6 separate regions of the Homo sapiens genome follow, and all the other regions are reported to be linked to region 1. The links are microRNA targets in miRTarBase. Many come from high-throughput screens and were not tested one by one. Region 1 holds a microRNA gene; each other region holds the end of a gene's coding sequence.

The links. The annotated mature microRNA hsa-let-7g-5p reads UGAGGUAGUAGUUUGUACAGUU and lies in region 1 at 2,534-2,555, opposite strand. An mRNA with a match to its seed (bases 2 to 7 or 8) in the 3' UTR can be bound and repressed. Matches are read on the target gene's strand: a 7mer-m8 pairs with bases 2 to 8, a 7mer-A1 pairs with bases 2 to 7 and ends in A, and an 8mer does both.
Region 2: miRTarBase lists ZNF200 as a target of hsa-let-7g-5p. Seed matches in the 3' UTR shown: 7mer-A1 at 844-850 and 8mer at 1,629-1,636.
Region 3: miRTarBase lists CEP135 as a target of hsa-let-7g-5p. The part of its 3' UTR that is shown has no 7-base or 8-base seed match.
Region 4: miRTarBase lists RNF44 as a target of hsa-let-7g-5p. Seed matches in the 3' UTR shown: 7mer-A1 at 2,632-2,638.
Region 5: the mRNA of SART3 is a reported target of hsa-let-7g-5p. Seed matches in the 3' UTR shown: 7mer-A1 at 3,469-3,475.
Region 6: the mRNA of ZNF584 is a reported target of hsa-let-7g-5p. The part of its 3' UTR that is shown has no 7-base or 8-base seed match.

The regions. Positions count from the first base shown.
Region 1 is chr3:52,265,803-52,270,876 of GRCh38, forward strand. It overlaps MIRLET7G (microRNA let-7g), which reads right to left and starts at 2,559; the gene lies at 2,476-2,559. It overlaps WDR82 (WD repeat domain 82), which reads right to left. Exons shown (of 9, transcript NM_025222.4): 2 at 4,910-5,007; 3 at 1,150-1,216.
Region 2 is chr16:3,219,465-3,224,538 of GRCh38, reverse strand. ZNF200 (zinc finger protein 200) reads left to right here. Exons shown (of 5, transcript NM_198088.3): 5 at 1-2,214. The coding sequence ends at 647. Among named protein-coding and RNA genes, the nearest start is that of ZNF200, 13 kb to the left of the region's middle.
Region 3 is chr4:56,024,107-56,029,180 of GRCh38, forward strand. It overlaps CEP135 (centrosomal protein 135), which reads left to right. Exons shown (of 26, transcript NM_025009.5): 25 at 395-508. The coding sequence ends at 497. Among named protein-coding and RNA genes, the nearest start is that of CRACD, 22 kb to the right of the region's middle.
Region 4 is chr5:176,524,573-176,529,646 of GRCh38, reverse strand. It overlaps RNF44 (ring finger protein 44), which reads left to right. Exons shown (of 11, transcript NM_014901.5): 9 at 3-124; 10 at 260-359; 11 at 557-2,935. The coding sequence ends at 619. Among named protein-coding and RNA genes, the nearest start is that of RNF44, 10 kb to the left of the region's middle.
Region 5 is chr12:108,519,016-108,524,089 of GRCh38, forward strand. It overlaps SART3 (spliceosome associated factor 3, U4/U6 recycling protein), which reads right to left. Exons shown (of 19, transcript NM_014706.4): 19 at 3,199-4,619. The coding sequence ends at 4,442. It overlaps FICD (FIC domain protein adenylyltransferase), which reads left to right. Exons shown (of 3, transcript NM_007076.3): 3 at 1-2,195. The coding sequence ends at 460. Among named protein-coding and RNA genes, the nearest start is that of FICD, 6.3 kb to the left of the region's middle.
Region 6 is chr19:58,416,974-58,422,047 of GRCh38, forward strand. ZNF584 (zinc finger protein 584) reads left to right here. Exons shown (of 4, transcript NM_173548.3): 4 at 1-1,354. The coding sequence ends at 811. It also overlaps a transcript of ZNF324B not described here. Among named protein-coding and RNA genes, the nearest start is that of ZNF584, 11 kb to the left of the region's middle.

The DNA.
Region 1 (5,074 bases):
TGCACTCAAGCAATCTGTCCTCCTCAGCCTTCCAAAGAGCTGGGATTACAGGCATTAAGCCACCACGCCTGGCCTGGAAGTGCAATTTCTAACAGGAGGCTCTCAGGCCATCTCCTGTCAGGGCTCCATACCAATCGAAACCATCCTGGGTTACTGTACATTTGCAAATGGATGCAGGAAAAAATACCCCAAGTGATTAAAATATTATCCAGGGGAAAACGTGTTTAACATTCAAAGAAAAGTTGAAAAATTAGAGAAAAAAGTAACTAGGGGCATTGGGGTGAAGAACAGAGAGAAGCAACCTGCATTACAATACAGAAAAAGGAGATAAACTTCTTGATTTTAAAAAAAGGACTTTCTTTTGCATTCTCATTAAGATCTTTAAATGGAACATTTTTACATAGGGGCCCACTGAAATGGGGGCCACATATATTGGAAGGCCTCATAAACACAAACAGTCCTTTATTAAGGGATATGTGAGATTTGGTATTCCTAAATGCCAAATCTAATTTTTACTACATAAGTTTTCACTGAATATCTTTAATCCACATTTTTTCTAGTTTTATATGTATATATAAAACTAGAAATATATATATCTAACTAGAAATAGATATACCTATAACTAGAAAAAATATATATACATATATATCTTTGAGACGGAGTCTCACTCTGTCGCCCAAGCTGGAGTGCAGTGGCGCGATCTCGGCTCATTGCAACCTCTGCCTCCTGGGTTCAAGCGATTCTCCTGCCTCAGCCTCCCGAGTAGCTGGGATTGCAGGTGTCCACCACCATACCTGGCTAATTTTTGTATTTTTAGTAGAGATGGGGTTTTGACACGTTGGCCTGGCTGGTTTCAAACTCCCGGCCTCAAGTGATCCGCCCGCCGCGGCCTCCCAAAGTGCTGGGATTACAGGTGTGAGCCACTGCACTGGGCCTAGTTATATTTTAACTGAGGTATCTCTGAACACCTACCTCTGCACCTCTATAACCTCAGTAAATCAAGAGTTGACTATTTAAGAGAAGATGAAGAATGCCAAGCAGTAGTGAGGAAGTAGCTTCAGTTCACTAATAAGCTCTCTCTAGCCTTCTATTCTCTGGGTAACCTCAGGGATAAAAGAACTATCTGCTTCTATAATACGTGGGTCTTACCTTTTGCTATGTCCAGGAAAGTATCTGATGTATTTGTTGTCATGCAAGGACAAGTAACGAATAGTATCTGTAAAAAGACAAACAAGGTATGATGATATCATACTATTTAAAAGAAATTTACTTTACATTTTCATCTTAAAAAGACAAGGTCAAATAATCCATTGTATTCTATATCCCAAGCAAGGCATGAATAAATAATGGTGAATAATTCTACTCTGCAGCTGAAGAGTGGGTATGTAGATTTCACCTAACTCAAAAGCAGAGTTCTTAAGTTGACAGCATAGAAAGCAATGTTTGAAATGACCTTTTATTACCAATTTGGTTTCTTCATAATTACAATGCAACTCCCACCCTGCAAATATACCCTGGTCAAAAAACAAAAACAAGTAAAGCACACATAATAATTTTAGATACTGGTCTAGTGTCCACAGAATGGCAAACCTTAAAGAAAAATATGTGGCTGTTGAGCTAACAGACTTAAAGAGGTGAGCAGCCATGGCAGTTAAACTGAAGATCAGGTTGAACCCTGGCAGCAATTTTTGTCTAGAGTTCTCCATCAGTATGTTGACCCACCCTCAACTCATTTGAACATTCTTCAATTGGACACACAAATTACAATGAAAATAAACAAAACGTCAGAGAAGTGATGTCAAGATCTGGGTTAAAAAGATCTTAAGACATTAAAAAAATCAAATTCTTATACCAATGAGTAATAGCAGTGAGATTTTGACAATATTAAAGAAAGGAACAATCAGAGATTTGTGCTTGTGGAAAAATAAGACACTCTTAACCAAATGATTCTATCTGAAAGAGTAAACAAACAAAAAACATGGTGGCGGTAGAGAAATGAAGTGCCATAAAGAATAAAACTGCAAAATAGAAAAGTATTATCCCCTTAAAAAGACTAGGAATAAGGAAAAATTGTTGAGAAACAGCTAAGGGAAAATGGTACCAAAATGCAGAAAGAAAACCATAGAAAGAACATTCTGAAGGCAAACAGAACATAGGAATAAAGGGGTTGAAAGCATCGAGTCATCCCAGGGGTTCACAGGGGTGCTTTCTAATAAGAGGGCATTTAACTTGGGAGGGGGAATAGGGGAATAGGGATATTTGTATATTCCATAACTTGAACACTACACAATTTTCCTTGAAAACATCTTCAAACTTCTTGAATGACAACTACGAAGTATTTCTAGTTATTCTACTGCTAACAATGACTCACCTGCCCTAAGAAGAAAAAGACTTCCTCCCCATTACCTGGTTTCCCAGAGATGAGCAGGGTGACGCCATCCTCTCAGCCCCACTTGGCAGCTGGCGCGCTGTTCCTGGCAAGGCAGTGGCCTGTACAGTTATCTCCTGTACCGGGTGGTATCATAGACCCTCAAACTGTACAAACTACTACCTCAGCCTGGAATCAGGCAAAAGGAAACGGAGCGCTGGAGGAACTCTTCAGGATGCACTTGAGACAGGAAAGGGAACATCCTCACAGCAGAGGCTTGGCAGCAAAGCTACAAGTGCCACACATTTGCCTCATCTTGCACCACATTTGGAGAATCCTCATTTAATCACTCAGAAAAACATCCCAACAGAAGAAATAAACCAGTCATTCGGATGATCACATAGACATGTTTCCTCAGGATCCTAAGGTTTTACATTCTTTTCCAAAATCATTAACTACACTGCTTCCTTAGAAAACCACTTCTGAAATACAGGCATGAAAAGTAGAAATGACATACTTAACTAAAAATCAATACAGGCAGAAGAGTCTCATTAAAAAAAAAAAAAAATGGAAAAAAGGACTTCCGCCCATTCTGCTCTGAGATAGGCACAGCCAAAATAGCAGTATAAGCTATCCTTGTGGAATGACATTAGAAAAATCTTTTTTGTTTTTTTGAGATGGAGCCTCGCTCTGTCACCCAGGTTGGAGTGCAGTGGTGTGATCACCCTAGACCTCCAGGGCTCAAGCAATCCTCCCACCTCAGCCTTACAAGTGGCTGGGACTACAGGCGCGTCCCATCACACCTGGCTAATTTTTGTATTTTTTGTAGAGACGGGGTTTTCCCAAGTTGCCCAGGCTAATCTCGAACTTCTGTGCTCAAGTGATCCACTCTCCTAGGCCTCCCTAAGTGCTGGGATTACAGGCATGAGCCACTATGTAGCCACCGGCCTAAAAAAAACCTTACTGCAAAATGTGAGATGATCATCAATAATCCACTGAAATAAGTTTAAAAACAGAATCCTGGCCGGGCGTGGTGGTTCACACCTGTAATCCCAGCACTTTGGGAGGATGAGGCAGGCAGATCACTTGAGGTCAGGAGTTCGAGACCAGCCTGACTAACATGGTGAAGTCCCAACTCTACTAAAAATACAAAAATTAGCCGGGCGTGTTGGTGGGCACCTGTAATACCAGCTACTTGGGAGGCTGAGGCAAGAGCATCGCTTGAACCCAGGAGGCTGAGATTGCAGTGAGCCGAGATTGCACCATTGCACTCCAGCCTGGGCAACAAGAGCAGGACTCTGTCTCAAAAGAATAAAGAATAGGCCGGGCACGGTGGCTTACAAGGTCAGGAGATCAAGACCCATCCTGGCTAACATGGTGAAACCCTGTCTCTACTAAAAATACAAAAAATTAGCCAGGCATGGTGGCATGCACCTGTAGTCCCAGCTACCTGGGAGGCTGAGGCAGGAGAATTACTTGAACCCGGGAGGCGGAGGTTGCAGCGAGCTGAGATCGCGCCACTGCACTCCAGCCTAGGCAACAGAGTGAGACTCTGTCTCAAAAAATAAAAACAGACAAACAAAAGAAAATAAACAAAATTAAAAAATTAAAGAATTCTAACATGAAAATAAGTGTTACAGTTCAGTTACCAAGACAATCTGTTAACTTAGGATTTATCTCGAGACATGCAGGCAAAAACAGAGATTGTTTATTATAGAAAGAAACTCACAAGTTCAATTTCTAAAAGTAACTCTACTCTTTAGATCAAAAAACGTTCCTGGAATCAGAAGTGACTAAGGTTGGGAAAACACCAAAACTGTTCTAACTTCCCTTAAACTATCATAGTTCAAGCATTTGTGAAACTTTTCTCAAATCTCTATCATTTTAAAAGAAAAAGTCCTGTTGTTTATCACTTGCTGTGTATCAAGTGTTCTTTCCTTTTATTTGTTCTAAAAGTGTTCTTTTTGGAGATGGAGTCTCACTCTGTCGCCCAGGCTGGAGTGCAATGGCGTGATCTTGGCTCACCACAACCTCTGCCTCCCGGGTTCAAGAGATTCTCCTGCCTCAGCCTCCTGTGTAGCTGGGATTATAGGCGTGCACCACTGTGCCCAGCTAACTTCTGTATTTTTAGTAGAGACAAGGTTTCACCATATCGGCCAGGCTGGTCTTGAACTCCTGACCTCAGTGATCCGCCCACCTCAGCCTCCCAAAGGTTGGGATTATAGGCGCGAGCCCCTACGCCCGGCTTTAAAAGCGTTCTTTTAAGTGTCAGGAAGTACAAATCATAAACACAATTAGTTGTTTCCTTTTTCCACTCCCCACTCTGAATTGAAGACTTTTCATACTCAGTCCCAAGTCCTTCAAAAGTGCCAATGGCTTGCTTCCAGCATTCCTTCAGTCAAAACAATGCAATTAACATTACTAACATTATATGAAAATACTTAAACTAAAGTAGTCACAAAGCAGAAGTAGTCACAAAGATTCCATGAACTATTTAACAAAGGAAACCATGACCTTAACTTCCTAAAAAGGCTTGCTTACCGTCTATTTTGTTAGAGCTGTAAACAACTGTGTTTGCTGCATGAGTGTATCTGATGAGGTCCACACCATATTTCTTACTGTACAGGGTTCTCTTTGGTCTGATAAGAAAATAGAGACAGAAAATCATGAACATTCTCCATCATCAAAATCTGGGATCTCCACATA
Region 2 (5,074 bases), not on the chromosome of region 1:
CTTCAGATGATGATGAAATGGATTCTTCCTTGGTCTCTCAGCAGCCTCCCGATAACCAGGAAAAGGAACGACTAAATACATCCATTCCACAAAAAAGGAAAATGAGAAATCTGTTAGTTACCATTGAGAATGATACTCCTCTAGAGGAACTCTCAAAATATGTAGACATCAGTATTATTGCCCTTACTCGAAATCGGAGGACAAGGAGATGGTACACTTGTCCACTGTGTGGGAAACAGTTTAATGAAAGTTCTTACCTCATTTCCCACCAGAGGACCCACACTGGAGAAAAACCCTATGACTGTAATCACTGTGGGAAAAGCTTCAATCATAAAACAAACCTCAATAAACATGAGCGAATTCATACAGGAGAGAAACCTTATTCCTGTTCTCAGTGTGGAAAAAACTTCCGTCAGAATTCTCATCGGAGTCGTCATGAAGGAATCCATATAAGGGAGAAGATATTTAAGTGTCCAGAATGTGGGAAAACCTTCCCAAAGAATGAGGAGTTTGTGCTTCATCTGCAGAGTCATGAGGCTGAGAGACCATATGGTTGCAAAAAATGTGGGAGAAGATTTGGTCGGCTGTCAAACTGTACCCGGCATGAGAAAACCCACTCAGCCTGTAAGACCCGAAAGCAGAAGTAATACTGGGAACCCTTTCTGGGTCTGATGGTGCTGCCTCAACCTGAGAGCTTTCATAAGTAGTTCTGAATTCCCAAGCTGCCTAAAAAGGTATAAATGTGTAAAAATCTCATTATTGCCAAAATTGGATAAATGCCCATCTTAGCTAAAACCTCAAATTGCTAGAAAATTCACAGGGAAGAAAACATTTCAAGGGCTATACCTCAGCATCTAGGCTTTTTGGACTAAGGAGCTTTCCTTTTTGAAGTTATATGATAATGTACAGGTCACAGATCCCCTTTCCCAACACTTTGAAGATGAATCTGGAGTCTGCTTACTTGGAAGGCAAAGAGTGACTTGTGTCTATTGAAAGTATATCCGTTTTCCCCCCACATGGGGATTCATACTTGAGAAATAGTGCAAAGATGCTTATCTGGAACTGTGTTCTGGTGAAAGAACCAAATTACTGGCTTGTTAGCCAACAGCTTCTGATAGCAATTCATATAACCCTCTAAGAATACCTGTTTAAGTCTTGAGTGTTGAAAGGAATTGTTTACTTTGGAATATAGGAAAACAGTTGAATGTCAGACTCTCATTTGTATGTGATCTAAATTTGCAATCAATTTCAATAATATTTACAATTTGTGATAAAACTGACTTTTACAGATTCCTTTTCACAACATAATTTAGGTGTCTACTGTTCTTATTGTATTTTGTTCTGCTGTTGATCTCTCCAGCAGCCGTCTCATGCTTCTCCCTTGCTAAAAGAAGTTTGGATTACTCAGGCAGGGCCATCCAGCCCCACCACTAGAAAAGCTCTTCAGAATCTTGTCCCTCTGTTGAGCCCAGATCTCATGTGCTACGAAGGAAACCCCAAGACCCAGAGAGGAAGGGTCAACCTGGAGGCAGGAAAAAGTTGGCTTGGATCCATGTCTCATCAATAACCTTACCATATGCTTAGGTCCCCTCTATGCTGTCATCAGACCTTTGGCAATGGGGTGGTCACTACCTCACAAGGCAAAGTGTTGTATGATTAGAAATTACGTCTCCAGTGGTTAGCTCACATTGCCTCTCAAGAGACAGGTTTCCAGGTGTCTTCATTGTAGTGGGTATTAATTGTCTTCAGCCTCTTGATATCCATACCTTCCTGTCCTCTGCCTAGAAGCAAGGCCAGCGGTGCCTTTACGGACTGATCGTGTGGTGCGATTTAGGGATTCTTCAGTTTTGCTTGCTTTAGGTTTCCAAAAGTTATACATTGGTGTTTTGATTGGAATAAAGAAATCCTATAAGCTATTTGGGAAAAATTATAGTGTATGTTTCCCATCCAGAAACATGCCTTTCTATTTATTAGAGTATTATATTCCTGTGAAAATTTTTCTAATTTTCTTCACTTGTTTTACACAATTTTGTTATTGTAGTTTTTTCCATTATATTTTTATAGTTGATTATTGCTTTTACATGGGAAAGTTATTTTTAATTATATATTTGTATAGTCATCTCACTGTTGTTAATTTTCAATAGTTTGTTGGTTTAGTTCTGTTAACTTTTGGTAAAATGACACCATCTACAAAGAATAGTTTTTGTTTCTTGCCTTCTGCCTATTGGTCTTTTTTGTTTTGTTTGTTGTTATTAACATGTAATTCTGAGGTTTCTTGTTTTGGCACAAAGCATTCTGAAAGAAGGACATTCTATGATACAGTTCAGTCCTGAATCGTAATTTAAAAACAACAAATCCTCCACAACAGAGAAAGGCCACAGAAAAACTGTCTTTACCAACATTGTATTTCAGGCCAACAGGAAGTACCCTGTAAAGCCAGCAAAGCGAACAAAACAGGCTGCCCACAACGTTATTCGCTTATTTGAAAGTCTGACCAGTGCACTAGGACTGGGATCCTGAACTGTGTTTCCAGAGTCGGCAGGCTGTTACCATGTGCAGTGGACCTGCCTGTGCACCCAGAAAAGTAGCTGCCAGGAAGTGAGTGGTGAGAGAGAGTCTCCACTCACTCTTTGGTACCCCTGCCCAGAGTCGGGTATTTTATCAGTCCTCATGCAGCCATGGCACAGTACCCGAGACAGTTAATTTTTTCTTTGAGACTGGCTCTGTTGATAAGGCTGGAGTGGGGTGATCTTGGCTCGCTGCAACCTCCCGCCTGCTAGGCTCAAGCGATCTTCCTGCCTCAACCTCTTGAGTAGCTTTTCGTTTAAGTGTAGGTGGGTGAAGCCACCACAACCCACACCATCTCATGTGTAGGGGACCTGCCCATGCATCCAGAAAAGTAGCTGCCAGGAAGTGAGTGGTGAGAGAGAGTCTCCACTCTCTCACTCTTTGGCAGCCCTGCCCAGAGTCGGGGGTTACATCAGTTCTCATGAAGCCATGGCACGGTACCTGAGACACTTTTTTCTTTAGTTGAGACTGGCTCTGTTGCTAAGGCTGGAGTGGGACGATCTTGGCTCACTGCAACCTCCACCTCCTAGGCTCAAACAATCCTCCTGCCTCAGCTTCCTGAGTAGCTTTTTGTTTTTTTAAGTGTAGGTGGGTGAAGCCACCACAACCCACACCATCTCCTGGACTGGGGAGGTGCCCACGGTCAGGGTTGCCGTCAATCAGCACCCAGTGTCCCAGAGGGCAGGACATGGGCCGCAGGGTTTCCTTCCGCAATAGTGAGGCTGGGTGGGAATGAGAGGAGCGCCCCGACCAGGACCAGGGGCCGCCCCCAAACACGAGAGCCCCTGGGAAGTTGTTGGATGAGTAAGTTCTGTTACCTAAGGAGCCTGATCACCAGTTAAGTTGAAAAAGTAAACAACAGTGAACAGTTTCCCAATATAGCGGTAGAGCGAGAGTTGGAAAATGTAAGAGACCAAAGATCCAATTCCAGTAGTAACTACAGAAAATAAGCCAGGCGCAGTGGCTCACACCTGTAATCCCAGCACTTTGGGAAGCCGAATCAGGAGGATGGCTTGAGGCCAGGAGTTCAAGACCAGCCTGGGCAACATAGTGAGACCCTGTCTACGAAAAAAAAAAAAAAAAAGATTTGGTTGAGTGCAGTGGCTCAACGCCTATAATCCCAGCACTTTGGGAGGCCAAGGCAGGTGGATCACCTGAGGTCAGGAGTTCAAGGCCAGCCTGGCCAACATGGTGAAACCCCATCTCTACTAATAATACAAAAAGTAGCCAGTTGCGGTGGCAGGCATCTGTAGTCCCAGCTACTCAGGAGGCTGAGGAAGGAGGATTGCTTGAACCCGGGAAGTGGAGTTGCAGTGAGCCGAGATTATGCCACTGCACTCTAGCCTGGGCTATAGAGTGAGATACCATTTCAAAAAACAATTATTTTTAAAATTTAAAAAACATTATCAAGACGGCATGGTGGCATGTGCGTGTAGTCCCAGCTACTTTGGAAGCTGAGGTGGGAGGATTCCTTGAATCCAGGAGTTAGAGACCAGCCTGAGCAACTTACTGAGACCACATCTTTTTTTTTTTTTTTTTTTTTTTTTTTTTTAAGAAACAGGGTCTCACTCTGTTGCGCAGACTGGAGTACAGAGCTGTGATCATAGCTCACTACAGCCCTGAACTCGTAGACTCAAGAGATCCTTCCGCCTAACTCTCCCAAGTATCTGGGACTACAGGGACATGCCACCTCACCCAGCTAATTTTTTTATTTTTATTTTTCTAGAAACGCGGTCTTGCTATGTTGTCCATGATGGCCTCAAACTCCTGGGCCCAAGTGATCCCCCTGCCTTGGCCTTCCAAAGCGCTGGGCTCATCTCTTTAAAAAAAAAAATCAGAGTAAATGGGAGGTTGACTCCAGCATGACAGTGTGAGAGTGCCTGTAGTCCCAGCTACTTGGGAGGCTGAGGCAGGAGAATCTCTTGAACCCACAGTGAGGGGAGATCCAGCCTGGGTGACAGAGCAAGACTCCATCTCAAAAAAAAAAAAAAAAGACAAGTGAATATAACTTCAAAGAAATGTGGACATCATTAAGTGCACCAAATACACACAATGGGAGTACCAGAAGAAGAGAGAAAGGAGAGGAAAAAATTTTGGAAAAATAATGGCTAAAAATTTCCCTAATTAATTAATTAATTAATTTTATTTTTTGAGACGGAGTCTCACTCTGTCGGTCAGGCTGGAGTGCAGTGACACGTTCTTGGCTCACTGCAACCTCCACCTCCCGAGTTCACGCCATTCTCCTGCTTCAGCCTCCCGAGTAGCTGGGACTACAGGCGCCCACCATCACGCCCAGCTAATTTTTTTGTATTTTTAGTGGAGATGGGGTTTCACCGTGTTAGCCAGGATGGTCTTGATCTCCTGACCTCGTGATCCACCCGCCTCGGCCTCCCAAAGTGCTGGGATTACAGGCTTGAGCCACCGCGCCCGGCCCCAAATTTATTAAAACATAATAATCTATACAGACAGGAAGCTTAGTAAACTTCAAGTAAGATAAACACAAAGA
Region 3 (5,074 bases), not on the chromosome of region 1:
TATAGTATATAGTATATTAGTATATATATAATTAGTATAATTAGTATATCAGTATTACTATTAAATTTAAATCCTATGTCTTTGTATGATTTTTAAGTAGCGGATAAAAGATTTCCATTAAAAGAATATGCACTATAAGAGATTGTTCAAAGCAATTAGGTCATTAAAATAATACCTTAGAAGCAAGATGCTCCTCACTATATATATATATTTAATTTTTTAATTGAAATATTTTATCCACTACTTAAAAATTGTACAAAGACATAGGATTTAAATTTAATAGTAATACTAAGTAATTTATTACAAATTAGCTAATAACTCTTATATTTGTTTGCCACTTTTTGATTTTCCCTGGTGCTTGAATATATCTCTCTTGTTTGATCTTTACTAACAGAGAACGAGCAATCCAAGAGATGCGTCGACATGGTCTTGCTACACCACCCCTTAGTTCCACTCTGAGGTCTCCTTCACATTCTCCTGAACATAGAAATGTGTAATTATCAGAAAGGTATGTATGTAACACCAAGGACAGGCAAAACTAATCTGTGGTTGTAAAAATTCAGAAAGTAGTTTTCTGCATCAGGAAAGGGGAGATTGCCTGGTAAGGCGTTCAGGAGAACTTCCTGGAGTAATGGAAAAGTTCTATATCTTGGTGATAGTAGTTATGTGGGTATATACAATTGTAAAAATTCATAAAACTGACCATTTACAGTGTATGCTTTTTTTTTTTTTTAAGAGATGGGGTCTCGGCCAGACACAGTGGCCCACACCTGTTATTCCAGCACTTTGGGGAGGCTGAGGCTGGAGGATCACCTAAGGCTAGGAGTTTGAGACAAGCCTGGGCAACACAGTGAGACCTCCACCTCTACAAAAAATACAAAAATTAGCCAGGCATGGTGGCACACACCTGTAGTCCCAGGTACCAGCTGCTGGGGAGGTGGGGGAGGATACTGAGGCAGGGGGATGGCTTGAGCCCGGAAGGTTGAGGCTGCAGTGAACTGTGATTGCACTATTACAGTCCAGTATGCATGACAAAGCAAGCAGCTATCTCCAAAAAAACAAAGAGTTCTCACTATCTTGCCTGGGCTGGCCTCAAACTCCTGGGCTCAAGCAGTCCTCCCACCTCAGCCTCTTGAGTAGCTGGGACTACAGGCTGGTCCATGCATTTTATCGTATATAAATTATACCTGAATTTAAAAAGAGAAGACATCTACAGCATAACGTTAAATGACAATATGAGCTATCACAGGATATTATTTGATGAAGGGCTAAATTCAGGCTACAAATAATAGGTAGTAAAAATGTAGACAAAGCATAGAAACAGTAGTACACATGGTACAGTAGTAACCTGGCAGGAAGGGCAGGCTGTGGGGGAATAATGAGGGAGAGAGGTTTGGAAGGTAGAGTGGGATATATAGAGTATTATATTGAATGTGAAGCTAAATTAGAGATTGTGGACTTTATTCTGTAAGTCAAAAGGAACGTGAACGTCAGTCCTCCTGTGTATAGGATGGGTACAAGGGAAGGGTCAAGATGAAATAACTGTTTCTGGTAGATTAATTTCACAACTGTGTTTGAACCATATTGGAAAGGATAGGAACTAGAGGTAGAGAGACCAGTAAGTGGTATGAAATGAGCAGTATAATAGTTCAGGATTAGTATAATAACATTGAAAGCTAGGACATAATTTTTAAAGTAAACCATGAAATATATACAGAAAGGTACCATATCATAGATACATAGTTCAATGAATTTTTTCAATGAACAAATTGAACACATCCAGGTAACCTGCATGAAAATCAAAAAAAAAAAAAAATAGGCCAGGCACGGTGGCTCACACCTCTGTAATCCCAGCACTTTGGGAGGCCGAGGCGGGTGGATCACTTGAGGTCAGGAGTTCAAGACCAGCCTGGCCAACATGGTGAAACCCCGTCTCTACTAAAAACAGAAAAATTAGCTGGGCATGGTGGCACGCACCTGTAGTCTTAGCTACTTGGGATGCGGAGGCAGGAGAATTGCTTGAACCCAGGAGGCAGAAGTGGCAGTGAGCCCAGATCGCGCCACTGCACTCCAGCTTGGGTGACAGAGTGAGACTCCATCCAAAAAAATAAAATATAAAGCCTGGCACAGGAGACTGAGGTTGCAGGACTACTTGAGCCCAGTTCAAATCCAGTCTGGACAACAAAGCAAAACCCCATCTCAAAAAAACAAAACAAAAACAAAACAAAACTAACTTCTCTTTGGCGTCAGTCATAAGCCCTGGTCTAAAAGTAACTGTCCTGACTGTTAAAAGTGTAGATTTCTTTTTGCTTACTTTTAGACATTTTATAAATGAAATCATGTTCCTGGCTTCTTTTTCTCAACAGTACATTTGTGAGATCCATCCATATTGTTGTGTGTACTTGTAGATTGTTCACTCTTGTTGCTGTGTATGGAATGCCATTATGGAAACTTACTACAATCCAATTACTCCTCCTTCTGTTCATAAGCACTTGGCAGTTTCCAGTTTGGGCTATTACAAATAGTGCTATGGTTATACTTAGAAGTGAAATTGATGGATCACTGGATATGTGTATGTTCAAGCTCTAGGAGATATGGTAAACTGTTTTCCAAAGTAGTTGTAAAGTGCCAGGATGCATTTGACTGAGGAAGGATCAAAGGGATGTGCTGATTCACTGGAGATGGGAATGAGTGGGAAAGAAACATGAGTCAGACCCAGGCTTTGACAGGTAGTGACTGTGGAAAATGCATACTCATTGACAGAAATAGTTATGCCAGTCTTGTTTAAATTGATACATTTCTTTGCCTCTTTTGATAGAAATATATAGAAGATAATTAAACATTTCCTCTGACTCAGAATCCTCATTGTGAACATTAGTTATGTGCTATTCTTTGACGTACTGATGCCCTCAAGTTTGTAGGGCCTTGGTTTAAATGATTCCTGATTGCTCTGCTTCTGCTTTTGTGTTTGATTAGGGCATTTATTTTTCTCTTTCACTTTGAGGACCACTTCTCAGTGTTCACTGTAGTCACTGTGTCCTTCTTGAATTGCTGTGTTATTTTCATGTGATCAGATGGTGGTTCACCTTCTTGTTACAAAGGATTGTAAGAATGTGACACAGACATTTTCTCATGTTTGATTCACAGCTGCAGTTTAGATCAGGGGTTGGTTGGTAAACTAGGATCTGCAAGCCAAATCCATACCACTGCCTATTAGTGTAAATTAAGCTTTATTGGAGCACAGCCACACCCATTTGTTAACAGATTGTCTAAGACTGCTTTACTACAGTGGCAGAGTTGAGTAGTTTTGACAGACCCCATGTCCCACAAATCTAAAATATTTACTGCCTGTCTCTTGACATCATGTAGCTCTGGAAAACTCAACTGTAGACCTGTAAGAAAATAAGAGTGAAAGGCAAATAATTCCTTGGTTTTATGAAAATAGGCTTGACCTTGTAGAGTCTCTGAAAGTATTGGGGATTCTCAGGGATCCCCAGACTGCACTTTAAGAACTACTGATATGGAACATAGATTCCTGCAGTCCCTGAAACTGTGATGAATTAGACACTGCATTTTTGTTTTGTTTTGTTTTGTTTTTAGAGCCAGGGTCTCACTCTGTCACCCAGGCTGGAAGGATGTGGCATGGTCATAGCTCACTGAAACCTCAAACTCTCCTGAGCTCAAGCAATCCTCCCGCCTCAGCCTCCTGAGTAGCTGGGACTACAGGCACGCCACCACACCCATCACCACTATCTAATTCTAAGATTTTTTTATCTCCCCAAACAGAAATTCTGTACCCATTAAACAATCACTCTCCAATCCCCAGACCTTAACCTTCCCAGCTCCTAGTAACTTCAGATCTACTTTTCTGGTCTCTATGAATTTGCCTATTTTACATTTTCATATAAGTGAAATCATACATGTGTTCTTTTGTATCTGGCTTATTTCACTTAGAATAATATTTTCCAGGTTCATCCATATTGTAGGATATACCACATTTAAAAAATCCTTTTGTCAGTTGAAGACACCTGGGTTGTTTCTATCATATGGTTATTGTGAGTAATGCTGCTCTGAGCATTGGTGTACAAGTATCTGTTTTAGTCCTTGTTTTCAAATCTTTTAGTATATACCTGAGACTAGAATTGGTGGGTCATATGGTAATTCTGTTAAACTTTTTGAGGGACTGCCAAACTGTTTTCCACGTGCTGCACCATTTTATATTTCCACCAGCAATGCATGAGGGTTCCTGTTCTCCACATCGTCACCAACACTTGTTATTTTCCACTTTTTAATTACAATAATTCTAGTACATGCAGATTAGAAAGCTTTTATAATCATCAACAAACTCATAATTTATAACTTTGTAATAATTTACAATTAATTTTTGAGGTATATTAATGAGATTGTTATTTACTAATCCATTTCCCCTCGTATTTTCTAAATATTGTCACCAAAACTAATTTTAAGGGATTTCCCCAAGCACTCAGAAATGAATTGCTCAAGGAAAAAAAAAAAAATGAATTGCTCAACTATAAAATGGCATCTCAGATTAGTGTCTCTCTGATAGTTAAATAGACAATCCAACTTTTATTATTTGTTTTTTGACTATCATATCTAATGCATGCTATTTGAGATAGGAAAAGCCTATAAAAGTGTTTTTCCGATTCTCATACACCACTCAGCATACCACTTCAGACACTGTATTCTCCAGCAGACACCAATTGATCTCAATTTTAACATTTAACTCAATTCTGACATTATCTGCCTGGAGATAGTGTCAGATCCCACAGATCAAGAGCCCAATCCCACAAATCCCTTCCCCTCGACTTCAGATGCCAATAGCAAGTCCCAGGTTGTGATCTGTGCTTCTGACTGAAGAGGTTTCCACAGCCCCCTCATCACATTCTATTAATTTGCTAGAGCAGCTCACAGAACTCAGGGAAACATTTTTACATTTACCTGCTTATTGAAAAGGTTATTATAAAGGATACAGATTAACAGGCAAGTGGAAGGGATGCATAGGGCAAATTATCAGGAAAGCAGCTCAAAGCTTCTGTGCCCTCTCAAGGCGCGC
Region 4 (5,074 bases), not on the chromosome of region 1:
AGGCCCTCCTGAACCTGGCCGAGCGGCTGGGAGATGCCAAGCCCCGGGGTCTCACCAAAGCAGACATAGAGCAGCTCCCGTCGTACCGCTTTAACCCGGACAGCCATCAGTCGGAGCAGACGCTGTGAGTACCCTGCCCCACCTCCCACCCCTCTGAACACAGCTGGCTGCCGTGGGACGCCCCTCTCAGGGGAGTCACACTCCACTGAGCCTTCCCATGGCCCTCAGCGTGGAGGTGACGCTCCGCGCCCCTCCACAGGTGTGTGGTCTGCTTCAGTGACTTCGAGGCGCGGCAGCTGCTCCGAGTCCTCCCCTGCAACCATGAGTTCCACACCAAGTGTGTTGACAAGTGGTTGAAGGTAACACTGCCCAGGTCTGCTCCTGGGTATTCCTCATGCAGTGACGGGGGGATGGGCTGGCCTGGGCTGTTTCCCTCCTTGTCCTTGTCATCATCTCGGAAGTTCTGGCTCCAGCGGACCAAGTCCCCCCAGGTGGCTGCACAGATGTGGTGGGTTGGGGCTGGTGAGAGCAACGCCTGACGTGCATGTTCCCACAGGCCAACCGGACGTGTCCCATCTGCCGGGCCGACGCCTCCGAGGTGCCCAGGGAGGCTGAGTGAGGCCACGCAGCCGCCTGCCCGGGAGAACCCTGCCTGAAGCTCTGGAAACTTGTGGGTGGGGCCCAGGGAGGATGGGGAGGGAGTGGCCCAGGCCTGCCCCTTCGCTCCTGCCTGCATTTCCAGAGCTGGTGCCAGGGTCAGCCCAGCGAGGAGTCCCTGCAATAAGCCCCTGCATTTGCCAAGCTCCAAAGACTCCCTCCCTAGTCTGCCTGCCTGCCCGCCCGCCACGGAGCTGCCTGAGTGTCCCTGATCGGGTCTCCCTCCTGTGCACCCTCAGGTCCCTCCTTTTCCTGCTGGCACTGAGTGCCAGGGGTCCGCTCCCTCAGTGGGGCCGGTGGAGATCCTTGGCCCCAGGATGGGCAGACAGAGCACCATCCTGGGTCAGAAGGTCTCATGCTCTGAAATGGCGTGCCCTCTGCCCAGGTGGCACTGCCAGGTGCGTAGACAGACGGTGTCACGAGCCATTTCCTGAGCCCCAGGGCTGAATCCCCCCTCCTTGACCCCGAACAGTGAACTCAGGCAGCTGGCTCTGTGTTGGCTGCTGTGAGGGCTGAGTCTGGTTCCCTAGGGGACCCTCATCCCAGGAACAACATTCCAGCCCCACCCTCAGGCTGGAGGGCGTCCCAGCCTAATCCCGAGCTGGGGCACACGTATCCTGAGGGGCTTGGGCCATACGGGGAGAGGGAGCCCTGTGTTCCCGGTGGTTGTCCCTCCCAGGGATGCAGCCAGACCCGTGCCCAATCTCCTCTCCCTCTGTTGTTTTGCATGAACGTGAGGAGCAGCAGTTTTTGTTCATTCATTTGGCCCAAAATCACGTGTAGGATTTGGGGATGTGGATATTTAAGACAATTTCTTTTTTCTTTTGGTTTAATAGGGGCGGGTATAGGGACCAACTGGGACCGAGTGCCCAGGGGGCCGAGCACGGTCATGCTGGCCGGCCTGCATGCATGCGTGTGCCGGGCTGGGCTGGGCGGCCGGCGGTCGTGGGGCAGGGTTGGGGGTCTGTGCTCAGCTGATAACTGCCATGCACTGTACTGCACACGTCCCTAGAGCCTACCGGGACCCGACGCTTTTCAGGGCATTTCTCCCTCCAGCCAGGGCCCAACTCCCACCTGCCTGGGCGAATCTCCTCCAAGGAAGTCCCAGGAGGATGGGGACCAGGAAGGCTGTGGACCCCCATCTCCAGGGGGCCTTCCCAGCCTGATCCCTGTCCTCCAAGTTCTGGAGGAGGCCGCTGTAGGGTCTGGCTGAGCTTCCCACCCACTTTCCCTGGTCCCAATCCTTTCTTGTCCTATACCCAGCTGGGGTTGCTGCCCTGAACGAACTGCGTGTGGGGCCGGCACATCCTAGCAGGCAGCCCCTGGCGCCTGCTGCCTCAGGGATGCTCCAACCACCCTCGTTCTCCTCGCAGTGGCCCTGGCTCCCACCTCCCGCCCCAGCCTGCCGTGGGGCCCGTCAGCCTGGTCCCACCCCCATGGAGAACCCAAAGTCTTACTGTATATAACTCCAGGTGACGTTTCTATATTTATAGCAGTGTTGAAAACCCACGTGTTTTACACAGAACCACCCTCTCCAACCCCTCCCTTCCCGACCCCAACAAAACGTTTTCAAACCCCTTACAGTTCCTGGGGCAGGCGGAAACAGGCTCACAGATTGTGTGTCGGCTGCAGCAGTGATTCCAACAAGCAGCTATTGGGGGGGAAACACAGCATTTAAAAAGATCATCATTAAAAAACAAGATTTATACAACAATTACTTAGGATGTTTGTGATCTGCCGACCTTGCTATAGATGCCATGTTACCAATGATTTCCTGTGGTGGGGGCTTGCCATTGTTTACTCTCTTATTTACCAACTTCTGGCCTAGGCATGACAGTGGGCACCTTCCCCCAGCCCTGGCTGGGCCCAGCGCCTGTGTTCTGTGTTAGAAAGGTTTTATATATATATAAAATTACATATATATGTAGAAATATATGTAATTTTGGGGGCCCTGTTCCTTGCACATTTTACAGTTACCTCATTTTTCCCATGTATGTATTTGAGAAAATGCTAATATATAGAGAAAAAAATGGTTCTTAAAGCTTAAATGTGTGGTTTTTTCCATTCCATGGGATTCACATTGGTTTGTAGCATTTAACATAACTAGTATGTTGTATTATATATATGTGTATACTGATTGAAATTTTTAACAGATTTGTACTTTTTTTAAAATGAAAGTTGCTAGTTCTGCTTGACCAAGTAGTGCAATCATTATTTTTTTTAATATTGTTGCTGATTTCAGAGGGATATTCACTAATAAATGTATGATGTATACCAACGACCGCCCACGCTGCCTTTGGCTGCCCGTGTCTTTTTGGTGGGAGGTGGGATGGGGATGAGGCTTAACACCTGTAATCCCAGCACTTTGGGAGGCCGAGGCTGGTGGATCACTTAAGGTGAGGTGTTCGATACCAGCCTGCCCAACATGGTGAAACCCCTTCTCTACTAAAAACACAGAAAAATTAGGCCGGGCGTAGTGGCTCATGCATGTAATCCCAGCCGGTGGCTCATGCCTGTAATCCCAGCACTTTGGGAGGCTGAGGTGGGCGGATCATGAGGTCAGGAGATTGAGACCGTTCTGGCTAACACGGTGAAACCTTGTCTCTACTAAAAATACAAAAAAAAATTAGCCGGGCGTGGTGGCGGGCACCTGTAGTCCCAGCTACTCGGGAGGTTGAGGCAGGAGAATGGCGTGAACCTGGGAGGCGGAGCTTGCAGTGAGCCAAGATCGTGCCGCTGCACTCCAGCCTGGGTGACAGAGCAAGACTCCGTCTAAAAAAAAAAAAATTAGCCAGGTATGGTGGCACAAGCCTGTAGTCCCAGCTACTCGGGAGGCTGAGGTAGGAGAATTGCTTGAATCCAGGAGGTGGAGGTTGCAGTGAGCCAAGATTGCACCACTGCACTCCAGCCTAGGTGACAGCGGACTGTGTCTCAAAAAATAAAAATGAATCTCAAGGTAGGTTCTTCTGTCCTGACTGGATCAGGGGGCTCAGGCCTGTCATGAGGAAATAAGGTCTCCCTCATTTCACAACTTGTTTTGTTTTTCCAATAGGAACAAGTCTCACTATGCTGCCCAGGCTGGTCTCGAACTCTTGGGCTCAAGCAGTCCTCCCACCTTGGCCTCCCAAAGTGCTGGGATTGCAGGTGTGAGCCACCGCGTCCAGCCTGCAACCTTGCTTTTCTCTGCGCGGCAGCGCTTGGTAGCCCTTGCTCAGTCTCCTCTAATTTAGCATCACCTGAGGCGTGTGCCACCATGGCCTGCTAAGTTTTTGTATTTTTTTGTAGAGACGGGGTCTCATGTTGTTTCCCAGGCTAGTCTTGAACTCCTGAACTTAAGTGATCTGCCTGCCTCAGCCTTCCAAAGTGCTGGGATTACCTGCGTGAGCCACCGCGCCCAGCTTAAAACACAATGATAACATTTCTAATGGCTCAAAGAAAAATGAAATACTTAGGACTAAATCTAACAAAACGTGCAAGACTTGCATGCTGAAAACTACAAAACTGTAATGAAAGAAATCAGACCTACATAAATGGAAACAAACCGTGTACTTGGATTGGAATATTCAACATAGTAAAGGTGGCATTTCTTCGCAGATCAATCTGTAGGTTTAATGCAATTTCTATCAAAATCTCAGCAAGGGTGGTTGTTTGTTTTTTAAGATGCAGACATGCCTAGGCTGGGCACCGTGGCTCGAGCCTGTAATGCCAACACTTTGGTTTGTTGTTGTTGTTCTTGTTTGTTTGTTTGAGATGGACTCTCGCTCTGTCGCCCAGGCTGTAGGGCAATGGCGCGATCTCAGCTCACTGCAACCTCCGCCACCCGGGTTCAAGTGAGTCTCCTGCCTCAGCCCGAGTAGCTGGGACTACAGGCACGCACCACTACGCCCAGCTAATTTTTGTTTGTTTGTTGTTTTTTTGTTTTTTTTTTGAGACGGAGTCTGGCTCTGTCACCAGGCCGGAGTGCAGTGGCGTGATCTCAGCTCACTGCAACCTCCGCCTCCTGGGTTCAAGTGATTCTTGTGCCTCAGCCTCCCAAGTAGCTGGGATTACAGGCACACGCCACCACGCCCAGCTAATTTTTGTATTTTTAGTAGAGGCGGGTTTTCACCATGTTGGCCAGGATGGTCTTGATCTCCTGACCTCAGGTGATCCGCCCACCTTGGCCTCCCAAAGTGCTGGGATTACAGGCGTGAGCCACCGCACCCAGCCAATTTTTTGTGTTTTTAGTAGAGAGAGGGTTTCACCATGTTGGTCAGGCTGCTCTCGAACTCCTAACCTCAAGTGATCCACCTGCCTCGGCCTCCCAAAGTGCTGGGATTACAGGTGTGAGCCACCATGCCTGGCTCTGTTTTTGTGGTTTTTTTTTTTTTTTTTCCTGAGACAGATTCTCGCTCTGTCACCCAGGCTGGAGTGCAGT
Region 5 (5,074 bases), not on the chromosome of region 1:
CGGCAGGTTTCGGACAACACAGGTCCTGGTCGGACACCACATCCCTCCCCATCCGCAGGATGTGGAAAAGCAGATGCAGGAGTTTGTACAGTGGCTCAACTCCGAGGAAGCCATGAACCTGCACCCAGTGGAGTTTGCAGCCTTAGCCCATTATAAACTCGTTTACATCCACCCTTTCATTGATGGCAACGGGAGGACCTCCCGTCTGCTCATGAACCTCATCCTCATGCAGGCGGGCTACCCGCCCATCACCATCCGCAAGGAGCAGCGGTCCGACTACTACCACGTGTTGGAAGCTGCCAACGAGGGCGACGTGAGGCCTTTCATTCGCTTCATCGCCAAGTGTACTGAGACCACCCTGGACACCCTGCTTTTTGCCACAACTGAGTACTCGGTGGCACTGCCAGAAGCCCAACCCAACCACTCTGGGTTCAAGGAGACGCTTCCTGTGAAGCCCTAACCCTAGAAATCCTCAGTGACAAAGGCTGTCCTGAGGTAGGAAAAAAAAAAAGAAACAGCATTTCTAGAAACCTAGTCACTTCCTAAAGCAAAAGGAGAAACATTCTTTACCTCCAAATGTTTTAGTTTTAAAAAAAAAAAAAAACTAAGTTATGAAGCCTTGTCTCTAAAATAACTTATAATTCAACCAAGCTATTTATTTTCTTCTTTGGAGCAAGCTAGTCAGTATTGTATGGTGTCTGCTGTGTCTTGCTGGTGGCCGTGCTTTAGGGGCAACAGTGCCACCATGTGACCAGAACAAAGGTTCTGGAGCAGAATTTGCACTAAGGTGGAGGAGCGGCCAAGAGGTGTGGGACGGGGCCCAGAGCCACTGACATAACTCCTCCAAGTGCTTCTCTGAAACAGGCTGAGAGGTTCTGTGACTGCAACTGGGAAGTCAGACCCAAGTCGCAGCTGAGAGAAATGGTTGAAAGCTCACTTTCTCAAGGTTTAGATTAGTGGTGACTAACTTCCAAGCAAACTTCATAGAAGAGAAAATGAATGCCGACATTCCTTACTTACCTGCAGGAAGACTTTTTGAGCCATAGTTTGCAAACTTTAGTGCCAGCAGCTGTTTTTTTTTTTTTTTTTTTCATATTGAGACTATTTTTCTAATTAAGAATAGGGGGTAGCCATAAAGAGCTGTATGTTGGAGGGGGAAACATGGTGGGCGGGCAGTTTGGTTTTCTTTGTGTATCCGCGTTTCTCTCACACTTCATTTGTAGCAACTCAGGCCAGATGTTTTCGTCTGAAATTCTCTGGGCTTGTCATTCCACCTGTATCGTGCTGCAAACCAGGTGTTATGCTAGTAGGCATCTGCCCTCACCCCTCTGCCTGAGTTTTCTGTAGGCAGATGTTAACCTGAGAAAACAAGTGCCATGTGGACACCAAGTAAGCATTTTTGATAATGAATTAGAGCACCAGTTTCTACTGAATGGAGCAAAAACCTTCAGCCATGGCCAGGCTGCATCCCTTTGGTCCTGGAGTTTCATCTACTTACTGCCATCTTCCACGGTCTTTGCACTGTCCCGTGTCCCATCCCCCTGGGAGGCAGAAGAGATTGCCTCGGAGTGGCCTTATTTTTCTCGCAACTTGTGAAATGATGTAGTGCTCTATGTAATATGGCCGGGTTTCCAAGCTGTCATCCAATGGAAGTAGAATCTTCTCTTTGAATCATATGGTACAGGTGCCAATATGACTGCTGCTATTTAGAGTCAGAGAGGTGGAAGTCACTGGGTCCCTTTCCCAGTGACAGAGCCCATGATGTCTAACACTACTGCACTTTGTCAGTGTGTGAGTGATGGCGAATACGCAGTGTTGTCTCTTTGATTTGGTAATTCCGTTCCTGACAGTAATGAGGCCACTGCTCTAAAGTAGTTTATACAGTTCTTCAGTTGTATAAATAGCACAGAGTAGTTTTTGAAAGGTTAAGAAAAATAAGTGAAAAGACATACACGATATATGAAATGGCTCCAAATGATAATTGTTCAAACCTTTATAAAATGTGTTTTCGTACTCTTATGCTGCCAGAGGTACTTCTTAAAACTCTTCTCGTCTTGGTTTTATAAGCACACCACGGAGGTCTGACAGATGTGCTTGCTTCTACTACAGAGCAAGAGAATTTGCACTTTAGCTATATGTGAAGGATATTATTTTAACAAATTCCTGATTCTAATAAAGTTATTTTATTACATGAATGCTTGAGACTGTCTTATTTGGGAGATGTTCCCATCTGTCATAAGGGCAGTGGGGGTATTCTGACCTTTAGCCCTATTCATAATACTGTTCTGGGAGAGCAACAGATCCAAGATGGTGATTTCCATGGGCAAGAGACCCAGAAGTTGGATAAACCGCCTACCTAGGTGGGCAAGGATGAATTACTGATTTTTTTTTACTAACAAACAGTCAAGTAACTGAAGTAGTTTTTCACATTTCTATTTATCATCAGTTCTGGATTTTCTGGGGAAAACACACAAACCCACTCATGTAGTCCTGGAAATCCATTTCTAGAACAGTCAACACCCGGAACCTAACTGGGTTCTGCTCAAGCCTGAAAAGGTTTGCCCCTGTACCAAGCCTGGGCTGACATCTGCAAGTGTGACATTAAGGTCAGAATACTGGCTGCAGGCAAAGCCAAACCGTTAATGTGAAGCAGCAAAAAGTAAGGCCACACTCACCCATAGTGATATTCAGGGCTCTTCATGTGTCAGGTCCCCAACCATGAGGGCTCTGAGCTACCCAAATCATCACACCAGCTGAACAGTCCATCAGCCTTCCAAGCAGCATCACAGAGAACACTGCAGGAGGAACGCGTGGGACAGCAAAGGTTCTTGCTGCTGTCAATAGCCGCCGCTTGAATTTAATTCAGAAGTAAAGCCTAGTAAAAAGTTGGTTTTGTATAAAAAAGAGATGGAGGGGAACCTACCTTTTAAGACTTAAGAGGCTTACCAACCAATAATTTACAGGGAGGAGAGCTGATATTTGTAGGAAGGTGGAAATTTGAGTGGACAGTTGATGACATGAAGGGATTACCACTAATGTTTCTAGGAGTGAAGGCCTTTCAGTCCTCCTGAGACACCTGCCGCAACATTACTGGATGAGCACAATGACATCTGGAACGTGCCTCAATATAACAGAGGGTGGAGGGGAAACAGACATGAAGGAAGAGGGGCTGGGAGTTGAGGAATGCTGGAAGCTGAATGGTAGGCACACAGGAGTTTATTTTACTGTTCTGTCTACTTTTTAATCGGTTATATTAAAAAATGTTAAGTTAAAAAAATATAGAAAACCCGACTGATGCACAAAAACTTAAACTTACGCAACAGATAAATGAGGAGTTGATTCCCACGACATATACAAGGATTCCCTGACGTCTTTCTCCAGAGTGTCTTAATAAAGCAAGCTTCCCCTACTGAACTGGCCAATGCTGTTGCTGTTTTCAAAGCAGTAAATATTATTTGATAAAAGATGTGAGGTAAAAAAGCTCAAAAGCTCCAGTGTCAAACTGCTATAAAATGAAGACACATCACAGCTGGAATAATTTAAATCAAAGTGACAATGGGATTTGACTTACAAAAGTTCTATTTACACATCTATTAGGTAAAGCAAGGTACACCCACTTCAAAACACATCTGTATGTGAATGCACATCTGAGTACCATTCAGCAAGAAGTTTTGAAGAGAACGTCAGTTTAATAAAGCTAAATGGGGAGAATTGAAGTTTGCATTTGACATGGTATTAAACAAAACCAAAGGGCTGAAACTCATGTTTAGACAACACAGGTCACTAGTCACTAGGCAAAGAAAACAGTCCACAGCAGGTGGCACAAATAATTCCTATACAAAACAAATGTTGCAAATATTCTGCTTTTAGGAAACATGAAACAATGGCTGACATGTCATTTACAAACACATAATATAAAAATGCACAGCCCCATTGAACAAAACTCCAGCAAATGTTTTATAGCTGACTTCCCTCAGACCCACCCCCACAAGAGGCCATTCTGTGAATTACTAGCATCTGCCATTTCATCTTTTAAAATTAAAAGAATGACGGGCACATGTGCTGTGCAGGGTGGAAGAGAAGTGTCATACAAAAAGGGGCCGGAGCTGGCCAGAAACATTTGGACAACTGTGTCTCAAAAACAGTGTGTTCTCGTTTCGCTTCTGTGCCTCAGTCTTTAAGATACAAAACTATCTCAGGACACCACATCCTGGGCCCAGCCTGCAGAGTGGTCACTTTTCTGCCACTGCCCTCAATATGAGGGAGCACTGAAAGGCTCTTGACTTAGAACCCCTTCCCCTTTCTGTCTAAAGCCGAGGAGCCATCTGTGGTTGCGAGCACGCAGCACACCAGGCCTGTCCATCCCCAGTGCACTGCTGGGTGGTGGGAGGTCCGCCGGGCCAGAGTGAAGTAAGGCATTTCCTGTCTCCCAGCGTCCCGTTCACTTTCTCAGAAACAGCTTGGCAAAATCGGCATTGGACATCTTGGGTGCCTCGGTGGCTGCTGGGGCGGCAACTGCAGGAGCCGCGGCAGGGCCGTTCTCAGCCTGAGGAGCTGCAGCACTTGGGCGCTGCAGGGCACGAGGCAGTAGAGACAGCTGCGTCCTTCCCTTCCCCCTCCTAAAAGAGCAAACACTGAATGGACCTTTTGAAGCAACAATTCGTGGCCCCTCATTTATTTGTGAAAATAAGCCAAGACAGTTTTAATATAACCAGAAGTTAAAAGGTGAAAAAAAAAAAGGATAAGATAATCCCTGCCTCCTTAATTCTGTTTATGAAGTAAAAACTGCTTCAACAGACTTGGCCTTGTTCAGTTTTGGCAAAGATCAACCCTGAGCACCAGTCACACTCAGAGGGGATCAGTGTGACTATCACCTCTCAGACCTCACCAGTCACCTGGCAATTCTGCTATCTCCTCCTCATCCCAAACCAGCGAACAGCACAGCTTATGTGGATCATAGCTAGGGCCGTAGACTGGCACACACATGGGTATGAGATTTCTTTGTAAACACACAGATCCAACTGGCAAAGGGGACTTTAAAATAATCACTGCCTTATTTCTGTCTGAAATAAAT
Region 6 (5,074 bases), not on the chromosome of region 1:
CCATGTGGCAGAGAAGCTGTTCAAATGCAGTGACTGTGGGAAGGTGTTCTTAAAGGCCTTTGCCCTCCTTGACCATCTGATAACGCATTCTGAAGAGAGACCCTTCAGATGCCCAACAGGCAGAAGTGCTTTCAAGAAGTCAGCTCATATTAACCCCCGAAAAATTCACACTGGAGAAACAGCCCATGTGTGTAATGAATGTGGGAAGGCCTTCAGTTACCCGTCTAAGCTGAGGAAACACCAGAAGGTTCACACAGGCATAAAACCTTTTAAGTGTAGTGACTGTGGTAAAACCTTCAACCGCAAAGACGCACTTGTTCTACACCAGAGGATTCACACTGGAGAAAGGCCTTACGAGTGCAGCAAATGTGGTAAAACCTTCAGTGTTCTGTCTACCCTCATTCGGCACCGGAAAGTGCACATTGGAGAAAGGCCCTATGAGTGTACAGAATGTGGGAAGTTCTTTAAATACAATAATAGCTTCATTCTTCACCAGAGAGTTCACACTGGAGAAAGGCCTTTTGAATGCAAGCAATGTGGGAAAGGCTACGTGACCCGTTCAGGCCTCTATCAGCACTGGAAAGTCCACACTGGGGAACGGCCCTATGAATGTAGCCTGTGTGGGAAAACCTTCACTACCAGATCCTACCGCAATCGGCACCAGCAGTTCCACACTGAAGAGAGGTCTTATGAATGTACAGAGTGTGGGAAGGCCTTCAAACATAGTTCCACCCTCCTTCAGCACAAGAAAGTCCATACTCCAGAAAGGCGTCAGGAGGACAGGGCACATGGGAAGGTCGTTAGCTGCTAGCACCGTGTTCATCAGGAAAGGTCTTATTCCAGAAAGGAGGTTAAGGAGAGTGGCCGTGAGAGTGCCATCCGAAAGAAGCTAAACCTTGCACATCCCAACACCCACCCCAGGGAGAGTTCCCGTGTGTGCCTGGTGTGTGGGACGCTTTCGGGAGCCACATTGCACTCTGACTTGCCTGGGGCTGTTGGCAGTGTCACATCACTGAGTTTATCCACCGCCATCCACCTCTATCCACCCCATAAGGTCCCTACAGCAAGTGGGACAGCAGACCTTGTGCTCCTTGCTCTAAACAGTAGAGAATCGTTAATAGTGGAGCCCAAAACAGGCCTCATTCCCTACCCTTGACTGGTTTAGCTGTGGACATGACCCACCTCTGGCCGGAGGAGCTGAGCTGGTATCTGCTGGGGGCTTCCTGGGAAGGTTTACCATTTTCATGGAAATGGTTGACATTACACATGGTATTTGTCATGCCCTAGCATGGACTGTCTCATACTGCTCTGGACTATGTGGTAATAAAGGCTTTATTGTTTAAGCCGCTTAAAATTTTTTTTTTATTTTTTTTTTGAGATGGTCTTATTCTGTTGCCCAGGCTGGAATGCAGTGGTGCCATCATAGCTCACCACAGCCTTGAACTGCTGGTCTCAAGGGATCTTCCTGCTTCAGCCTCCTGAGTAGCTGGCACTACAGGTGTGCGCCATCACACCTGGCTAATTTTTTTTTTTCATTTGTGGACAGGGTCTTGCTATATTGCCCAAGCTGGTCTCGAACTCTGAGCCTCAAGCTATCCTCCTGCCTTGGCCTCCCAAAGTGCTGGGAGCCACTGTGCCTGGCCTAGTTTTTTTAGAGACAGGGTCTCACAGTCTTGCCCAGGCTGGAGTGCAGTAGTGTGAAGCTAGCTCATTGCAGACTTGAACTACTGGACTCAAGTGATCCTCCTGCTTCAGCGTATTGAATAGCTAGGATTGTACTTGTGTGGCACCACATCTGACTAATTTTAAAAATTTGTATAGAGACAGGATCTTGCTACATTGCCCAGGCTGGTCATGAACTCTTTGCCTCAAGCAGTCCTCTTGCCTCAGCCTTCCAAAGTGCTGGTATTATAGTTGTGAGCCACTGTGCCCTGCCAAGTCTCTTTTAATATTGAGGTTCTGATCCCTGTGTGTGGAGAGATTGAGAATAGAATCCGGCACTATCACCGTAAGTTGAGGGAATGGCTTTTGTGGAGGTGGTCTCTTGAGTTTTTTCTGCCTCAGTGGGGATGGCAGGATGACAGAAAATACCTCTAGTCAAGGTTGGCCTAATTTGTATTGGCCCCTGAGTCCTCCAGGGAAAGACTTGTAGCCTGGATGTCAGGCTTTTTTGTGGGTCCAGAGCTCACCTTGCGGAAGGGAATAGTTGGTGAGAGATCTTCTATATGTTTATGGACATAAAAAGTTGGGTTCCTTGTTCCCAGGGAATGTTCCAGAACTTCCAGCATTGGTCAGAAGGAGCTGTTTCCAGATTCAGCTCAAAAGTCATATTCTCCAAAATCTGGAACATGGAGGTAAGTTATAGACTGACTCTAAGACCTATAGGGGCCTGTTGGGTAGAGTAATTTGAGTAGAGTAAGTGGGCATAGAAATATTGAGTGAAGTAGTATGGAGTGAAGTGTCTGATAAACAAGAGGATTTCAGCCAGTTCTAAAGAGGCATCCACAAATGTTCCAGCAACTGAGGTTTCCTGGGGTGAGGGCACCAGAACTTCTCAGCAATTGCAGACCTGTTATTTGTGTCAAGGTCACTGTCAGCAAATAATCTACAGACTTTCTGGATTCTCATATCCTCTCTGGGCTGTTCACCTCTCATGGCCATTATCCTGAGACTGAAAGATTCTATAGTCCTGGGATGTGCCTTTTGTGACCCAGCCAGTACTCCTGGTGTCTGGATGCTGTGGCCTTTGCAGTTGTCAAGTTTTTGCTGTCATGGTGTCAGGGCTTTCCCTCTGGGGCTCAAGAGAGACACGTAGGGTAACCAAAGTATGGATCCAGATCTTGCGGTTTATGGGACCTTTTCAGAGTCTTGCTGTGTCACGCAGCCTGGAGTGTAGTGGTATGATCACGGCTCACTGCACCCTTGACTCCAGGGATTCAAGTGATCCTTCTACCTCAGCCTCCTGAGTAGCAGCGACTACAGTTACACACCACCACACTCAGCTAATTAAAGAAAAAATCGTTTTAGGCTGGGCGTGGTGGTCGATGCATGTAATCCTAGCACTTTGGGAGGCCAAGGTGGGCAGATCACTTTAGGTCAGGAGTTTGAAACCAGCCTGGCCAACATGGTGAAACTCCACCTCTACTAAAAATACAAAAAAATTGGCTGGGTGCAGTGGCTCACGCCTGTAATCCCAGCACTTTGGGAGGCCGAGGCAGGTGGATCATGAGGTCAGGAGATCGAGACCATTCTGGCTAACATGGTGAAACCCCGTCTCTACTAAAAATACAAAAAAATTAGCCCGGCATGGTGACGGGCGCCTGTAGTCCCAGCTACTTGGGAGGCTGAGGCAGGAGAATTGCTTGAACTGGGGAGGCAGAGGTTGCAGTGAGCCAAGATCTCACCACTATTCTCCAGCCTGGGTGACAAAGCAAGACTCTGTCTCAAAAAAAAAAAAAAATTTGGGAGTAGGGGGTCAGGATTGGCGGCTCATGCCTGTAATGCCAGCACTCTGGGATACTGAGGTGGGAGGATCGCTTGAGCCGAGAAGTTCATAGACCAGCCTGGGCAACATGGCAAGACCCCATCTCTTTAAATTTTTTTTTTTTTTAAGAGACAAGGTTTTGCCATGTGCCCAGGCTGATCTTGAACTCTTGGGCTCAAGTGATCTTCCAGCCTCAGACTCCCAATGTGCTGGGGTTGGTGTGACACTGTTCCTGGCTTATACCCACTTTTATTTTATTTTATTTTTTTTGAGATGGAGTCACTCTGTTGTCCAGGCTGGAGTGCAGTGGTGTGATCTCAGCACACTGCAACCTCCGCCTCCCAGGGTCAAGTGATTCTCATACCTCAGTCTCCCGAGTAGCTGGGATTATAGGCATCGGCCAGCATGCCCGGCTAATTTGTATTTTTAGTAGAGACGGGGTTTCACCATGCTGGCCAGGCTGGTCTCGAACTCCTGACCTTGTGATCTGCCCACCTCAGCCTTTCAAAGTGCTGGGATTACCGGCGTGAGCCACCGCACCCAGCCTATATACCCACTTTTAAAGACATACGAGATGCTAAATGTTATTCAGAATGGGCTAGAAAATGGGTGGTAACTTCCAGCTGTTGCCATGCTAAGGGGCAGTAACTTCCGAGTGTTGCCAAGGCAGTGGCAAACTGCCATGGCAATGGCGGGCCTGTCTTACGGGGAAGTGCTTTCAGCGCCTTTTCCTGATTTCAGCGTCTTCAACCTGCTCTGGAGTAGAGTCCCATCTGCCTCCTACCTCAGCTTCACAAAAATCCCTTGAAGGAGGAATTATCTTCATTTTCCATTGCTCCCCCACTTCCCCAGACTGGCTGCTGGATAGGATATTGATCACCTTGCTGCCTATAGAAATCTCAGTGCTGCTTTTTTAGGGGGAACGGAAGCCAATCCACATTGTAATTTTTTTTTCTTTTGAGACGGAGTCTCCCCGTCACCCAGGCTGGAGTGCAGTGGTGCAGTCTTGGCTCCCAGGTTCAAGTGATTCTCCTGCCTCAGCCTCCTGAGTAGCTGGGATTAACAGGTTCGCCGCACCATGCCCGGCTAATTTTTGTATTTTTAGTAGAGACAGCGTTTCACCATGTTGGTCGGGCTGGTCTCGAACCCCTGACCTCGTGATCCGCCCACCTCGGCCTCCCAAAGTGCTGTGATTACAGGCGTGAGCCACCGTGCCCAGCCATGTAATTTTAAAAATGTAATTTATAAGAGCATAAAATTATGAAATACTTAGAAATAAATTTGACAAAATTATGCAAGACTTGTACACTGAAAACTACAAAATGTTGCTGAGAGACTGATTGAAGAATACCTAAGTAAATGAGGACATTTACCATGTTCATGAACTGGAAGTCTCAATATTAGTATGTTAATCCTCCCAAAGTTGATTTGCAGATTCAATGCAGTCCCAATAAAAATGTCACTAGGTTTTGTTGTTGTTGTTTTTGACTCGCTCTGTAACCCAGGCTGGAGTGCAGTGGTGCAATCTTTTCTCACTGCAACCTCCGCGTCCCGGGTTCAAGCGATTCGCCTGCCTCAGCCCCCCAAGTA